Regions from separate parts of the Homo sapiens genome. Here region 2 is linked to region 1. Evidence: fine-mapped expression QTL. A gene starts in region 1. The other region holds a variant in brackets. All regions are shown on one strand. Distances are between the middles of the regions.

Region 1 (2,928 bases):
AATGAAAAGAGAAAGAAGCACAGAAATGCATCTTTATTTCTTTAATTATTCCTTCAACAACTAACCAATTTCCTCAACAAAGGCTCATGTTCTCCACAAATATTGTCTGAAAATTAAATAATAATAAAACAAAACATAAGAGCTGAATCCCTCTTACTGGTCCAGATCCATGAAGTCCACAGTTTTCAGTACAATGTCTAGTTCATTTGTTAGTTCGCAATACATTCCCCTGCCCTTAGAAATACTTAAACTGATTGTACTAAAAAATAAATCTTACTAGACCTTACTCAAGTATTATTATCCTTGTAATTAAGCTAGTCTGTTTACCAGAGGCTGTTGTGTTTGCAGATACTGTTAATATATTAGTCTTTACTTATAAACCTCTCTGCTGCAGAGAAAATGATGTGGAAAATGCAAAGAGAGTAAGGAAAAAACTAAATTCAGGCATCTTTTTAGATAAACGTGATTGTCTACCAAGACTTTCCAAACATCACCTTAGTCCCTTAGGAAATGGATTCTGCAAAGATGAAAAATAAATTTTCTTTTAATTTCTTTATGGAGATGTGATGAAAACACAAGTAATCTGTGCTCATGAACAATTAGAGCTTGAAAGTTAGTCCCACTTCTAAGTATAAAGAATAAAATAAAAATCACCCATAATCCCACCATTCAAAAATCACTACTCAATATTTCGGCACATTTCCTTCCAGTCTTTTTTTCTACTTTAAAAATCATAATAGACCAGGCACTGTGGCTCATGCGTGTAATCCCAGCCCTTTGGGAGGCCAAGACAGGTGGATCTCTTGAGGTCAGGAGTTCGAGACCAGCCTGGCCAACATGGTGAAACCCCTTCTGTACTAAAAAATACAAAAATTAGACAGGTGTGGTGGTAGTAGGTGCCTGTAATCCCAGCTACTTGGGTGGCTGACTCAGGAGAATCACTTGAACTGGTGAGGCGGAGGTTGTGGTGAGCCAAGATCGCTGGGCTTGGGTGACTCCAGCTTGGGTGACAGAGTGAGACTCTGTCTCAAAAATAAATAAATTAATTTAATTTAGTTTAAAAACATAGTAAATAGGTTATCTTCAAAAACTCAAGGTTTACTTAGACCATTTATTCAAGAATTTTTTCCCCTTATCCCCAGGAAAAAAATTTCTATTATCCTCCTGTCCTGCAATGTATTCACCCCCTTCAAAGGCAACTCAAGTCATCGACAGAAAAATCAAATGACGCTTTAGCCGCTCCGCTGCTTTCTTTCCTATTTGGGGGATAAATTCTTTAATTAAATTAAAGATTAACAAAGCCTTGGCAATCAGCATGCATCCTCTTAATTGCAAAGATGGCTTAGCTATTCTCAGCAGTTAGTTTTTTTACAAAGGTACTTGCAATGAAAGGGTCAAGTTTAAGACTTCTCTAAACCTCTGCTCTACATCTCTCTCTGTTAATAACCTTCCTGGTGTTCGATATTTGTTTAATGATCAACAGTGGCTTCTATTCCTATCACTGAGTATTTCAGAAAGTAGCATAACCAAGTCAATGTTTAACTGGATTCTTTGGGTCTGAAACGGCAAAGTTGAAGGGAAGTCTCCATGGAAACCAGCCTCCCAGGAAGTGGCCAAAAGGGTTAGTGTGCAGTGAAACAGAGCTAGAAGGATGCCATGAAGGAAATGACTGCTTTGTAAAGCGAGGGTAAACTTCTGAAATGCTTTGATTAAAATAAGCTATATTAAAGACCCCAAAACCACTTCCCTCGCAGCTTTCCTCTGAATGTCTTTCACATGAAATGGGCCTGAGTCACTCTAAGACTCACCTTAGGGTGATCAAAGTAGCACCTTTGCAAAACAAAGAGGTAGAGACTCCCTCGGCTGGCCGTGTGGACTTTGCATTCAATCAGAATTTGGAAGAAAAGACTTCATATTCACTGGCAAGACTGCAGGACCAGAATAAAGCCTTGGAAGGGCAGCTGCCACCTTTACAAGAAAACTGGTATGGAAGATATTCTACAGGTAAACATAAAACCCAGCATGAGATGTGTGTATCTGGACCAAGGAGCATTATTAATAGGTTTATCTGACTGTCTCCATGATCTCAGAAAGTTTCTAAATTCCTGAAATGTAAAGGAATTTAGGCTATCTTTGAAAACTCAAATCTTTCAATGAGGATTGAACATCAGTTGAAAGTATTCTGGGTTCATTAGAATGGGAGTATAAACTGTACAAAGGACTTTTCACTATTCCATATGAGAAGGATAAATCATTTTGTTTCAGCTCAGTTTGTAATGCTTTCAATGTTTATACCTAGTTTTGCCAGACCATTAAAATTATATAGATACTAGTGATAAATGATAGCAATCGCGTTTCAGTTAGATTCTAAATTTAAATCATTCTCTCCAGTATAGTTTAATGCACCAGACTTTGTGGTTTTGAAAGCAACACTTTAAGAGTGAGTTAATTCTAACATGAATTTTGAAACCACCCTAAACAGTATTGATTTATTGCAGTACAGAGGAGTGGATGAGTCACCCTTTTCCCAACCCCACATTCTTCATGGTCATCTGCAGAACTAACAGAATTCTTTCCCATTATGATTGGAAGCTCTGAGCCTGAAGTGGCCATAAATCCTGGGATATTTTATAAGCCATGTAAAATGTTTTATGATGACCACAATGATAATTAAACAGACATTCTCACTTAGAAAAATATATGTTTATTATATACATATATATATGTATATTGTTTTCCCTTTTCTTCACCTTCTGGATCAATAACACAAATAAGTTTCCCTTATTGGATGCCTTGTTCAGAAAGCCTCACATTCTCTTTTGGTACCTAGCAAATCTTGCCTGGAATGATTTTTCATGGCTATTGTCTGCAGAATTGATAACGTTTGGTTGTTTCTATATGGCCTGTTTTTATGTTCTTTATGTTCTT
Region 2 (2,928 bases), 85 kb after region 1:
AGCAATTAACTGTAAAATTTGTTACATTGCACTGATTGGCCAAAACACAATGTAACTAATAAACATGGTGGCTGTTAAGAAAACCCACAGAACTCATTCCAAAAAAGATTTTCATTTCCCCCTTTTGTTTTTCTGGCAGAAGAAAAGCAAAGCTCCCCCAAGAATTTGCTCATACAAGTGAAAATAAAATAAAGCAGCTTAAAATGGATACAATGCACCTTGAAATTTATTTCCAAGACCAAGAACCTGAAGTGAAGCATTTTAAGAAATGAAAGCAATGTGAATCCAAATCAAGTGGGAAAAACAAATTCAGCTACTTTGTAAAAGCTGTTCTTCGCAGCGTAGCAGTAATTTTGATTAAATAAAATCATATCAACTTACACTAATTTTCTATTCTTTTCCAAAACTTCCCTTACTCTCAAAAGAAAAAGTGCATCTAAACCCCAGCAATTCCCGGCTCCATCAACTTTTCTTATCTCTTTTGAGCCATTTCTCAATTTTCCAAGTAGATTCAACTTGTTACTGTAAGGAAAAAGGGACTTCTAAAGTAAACCATTCTTTCATTCACCTGAAAAAAGTATCCAAATTATAAAAATCTGAAATAATTTATCAAATTTAGAATTTAAATAAAAACAAAAGTTTGCTTGCAAAGGCCTTAAAGAAAAGGAAAAGATAGCATGCATTCAAAAACTAGAGATGAAGACAAATATACTTATCTACACAGGCACTGGCAGACAAAATTTAATTGTTACCTTTACTCATTGTAAGACATACCCACCCTACATTTTTTTCATTCACTAATCACTGAGGTACCAATATTCAAGAATGGAAAATTTAATATTGAAAAAATAAAACCTAAAACTGAAGCGTCTCCCTCACCCACTTCAGAAAACTAGGGCAGGTTTTGTGTGAAATGTTAGTATACTTAAAGACTTTTACAATCCACATTGGCTTTTTTAAGGAACAAAAATTATGTTCCACTTACTGGTTCTGTGATAAAATGATCACTGTGTAAATAACATTGTCAGCAGACTTTGCAAATGAACACATAAATCTTGGCTATCAACTGGCACATCTTGTTGGTACCAAAAGAACTCCTGAAGTTTAAAACAATCTTTTAATTCAGAACAAATGTGCCATGCCAAAGTGCAACAAATATTGTGCGACACTCAATGAGACACTGACAGGTAAGAGCTGCATGGAAATTACTAAATCCACCTGCAAAGCAATTCTGTACAAATTGCATTGCATGCAAAGGTCGATTCTGTG[C/T]GGATGATAGTTGTTCCTTGATGTCAGTTTCTCAACGCAGCCACAGTTTAAGTCGCAGTGCATCAACTCCATTTAAATAGTATCTGAACAGCCTCTTATCTCGAACAAAACCAAGATTTTCATAAAGTTTCAAAGCGGACTTATTTGTTATTTCGGTTTCCAAAACAACCTTCAAAGAAATGAGAAAAAAACTAAGTTATAATTACACAATTTAAAAAATAATTTACCAACTAAACAATTTTTTAAAAAATCATACATTATTTTAAAAATTGATAGTGAAAACAATAAATAATATACAGAAAGAACTCAAAAACAGTCATCAAGATTGTAATATTATATTTGGGTCAAGGGCTTGGAGGACCACTGCAGATTTATCTTCTGTTCTACTGATTTGTGTAGTTTGAAATGTTTAGCAATGAGAGTATGTTTTATACTAAAACAAAGATTAATTATTTCCCTGTGGGGAAAGGTAAAATGACTACAGATGAAAATAAAATCAACAATCAAAAGTGCTGGTTTATTTCCTTAAAATAATAAGCTATATTATTATAAGCAGCTATTCAGATTGACTTCCAACTTCTGTATTTTCATTAATATGTCATTTATTCTGGCAATAACTACCATATTTGTCTGGAGTCTCGACCAGAGTCTGCAAACTATAGACTTTGGGCCAAATGTGCCTGCTGTTTTGTAAATAAAGTTTTAGTCAAACAGCCATGTTTATTTGTTTACATGATGTCTGTGGTGGCTTTCTCAATACAAGGGCAGAGCTGAGCAGTTGCCACAAAGACCTATGGTCCACAAAGCCTAAAATAATTACTAGTGGGCCTTTTACCAAGAAAGTTTGCTGAATCCAGACAAGAGGTATTCAAAATGTTACAGTGTATCATAATCACCTGAAGGGTCTGTTAAAATAGATTGCTGAGCCCCACCCTCAGAGTTTATGAGTACGTTTGCAGTAGGACACAAGAATCTGCATTTTTAATATTTTTAAATTGCTAGATGATGATGTTGCTGCGGTCAAGGGACCACATTTTGAGAACCACTGGTCTATATAGCAAAGCTTAACAGAGGAACACATAGTATTAACTTTCATTTAAGTCTTTTGAAATATTACTGAGCCAGTGGCCCTGACAATGAATAACTGGTATTTTTGAAAACTGCGATTTTATTTTTACCTCCCTCTAACACCCTCTACCCCATCTTCCCAACTTTTACACACGTAGCTCTATTTGCCTTTTCAATTGTTTCTCAACTTATTTCATTGAGAACTATCAACACAGTGAGCCACAGTTACTATTGGGTGTCATAACCCTCAAGTGTTTGGAGTGGGTGGGGGGGAAATGGCAAAGTATAATTAAACAAAGGCCCAAGTGAAGCATAAGTCTCTTCCTGTTCTTTCTCAAGCTATCAAAAAGTCTGACAAGAATGCAAACAACTGATGCAAATAATAAAGACAGTACCTCAACTTATATCCAAAATTGAACTCATAATCTGCTCTTCCTCCTCAATTCCATATCTCAGTAAACAGGATCACCCCCCACCACACCAATGCCTCAAACCTGAAACCCAGGAGTCATCTTTGAACCTCATTCCTCTCCAACCACCTATATGCATCCAAGCACTGATTATTGTCAATTCTCCCTCTTAAATCTCTAA

Which allele goes with the higher level. Alleles are on the strand shown, and positions count from the first base shown. SD is a standard deviation of normalised expression in the study named.
With allele T in place of C in region 2, the expression in prefrontal cortex of the gene that starts at base 1,640 in region 1 is higher (moderate effect, 0.56 SD a copy in CommonMind).

What was found. PIP is the estimated chance that this variant, and not a neighbour inherited with it, causes the effect.
Region 2: its variant is fine-mapped to the expression of CCDC198 in prefrontal cortex (CommonMind, PIP 0.95).

Annotation. Positions count from the first base shown.
Region 1 is chr14:57,492,569-57,495,496 of GRCh38, reverse strand. CCDC198 (coiled-coil domain containing 198) reads left to right here and starts at 1,640. Exons shown (of 6, transcript NM_018168.4): 1 at 1,640-2,004. The coding sequence starts at 1,782. All of the region lies in intron 1 of LOC105370519 (a long non-coding RNA gene), which reads right to left.
Region 2 is chr14:57,407,889-57,410,816 of GRCh38, reverse strand. NAA30 (N-alpha-acetyltransferase 30, NatC catalytic subunit) reads right to left here. Exons shown (of 5, transcript NM_001011713.3): 5 at 1-1,438. The coding sequence ends at 1,301. Among named protein-coding and RNA genes, the nearest start is that of NAA30, 19 kb to the right of the region's middle. The variant C/T (reference allele first, on the strand shown) is at 1,270.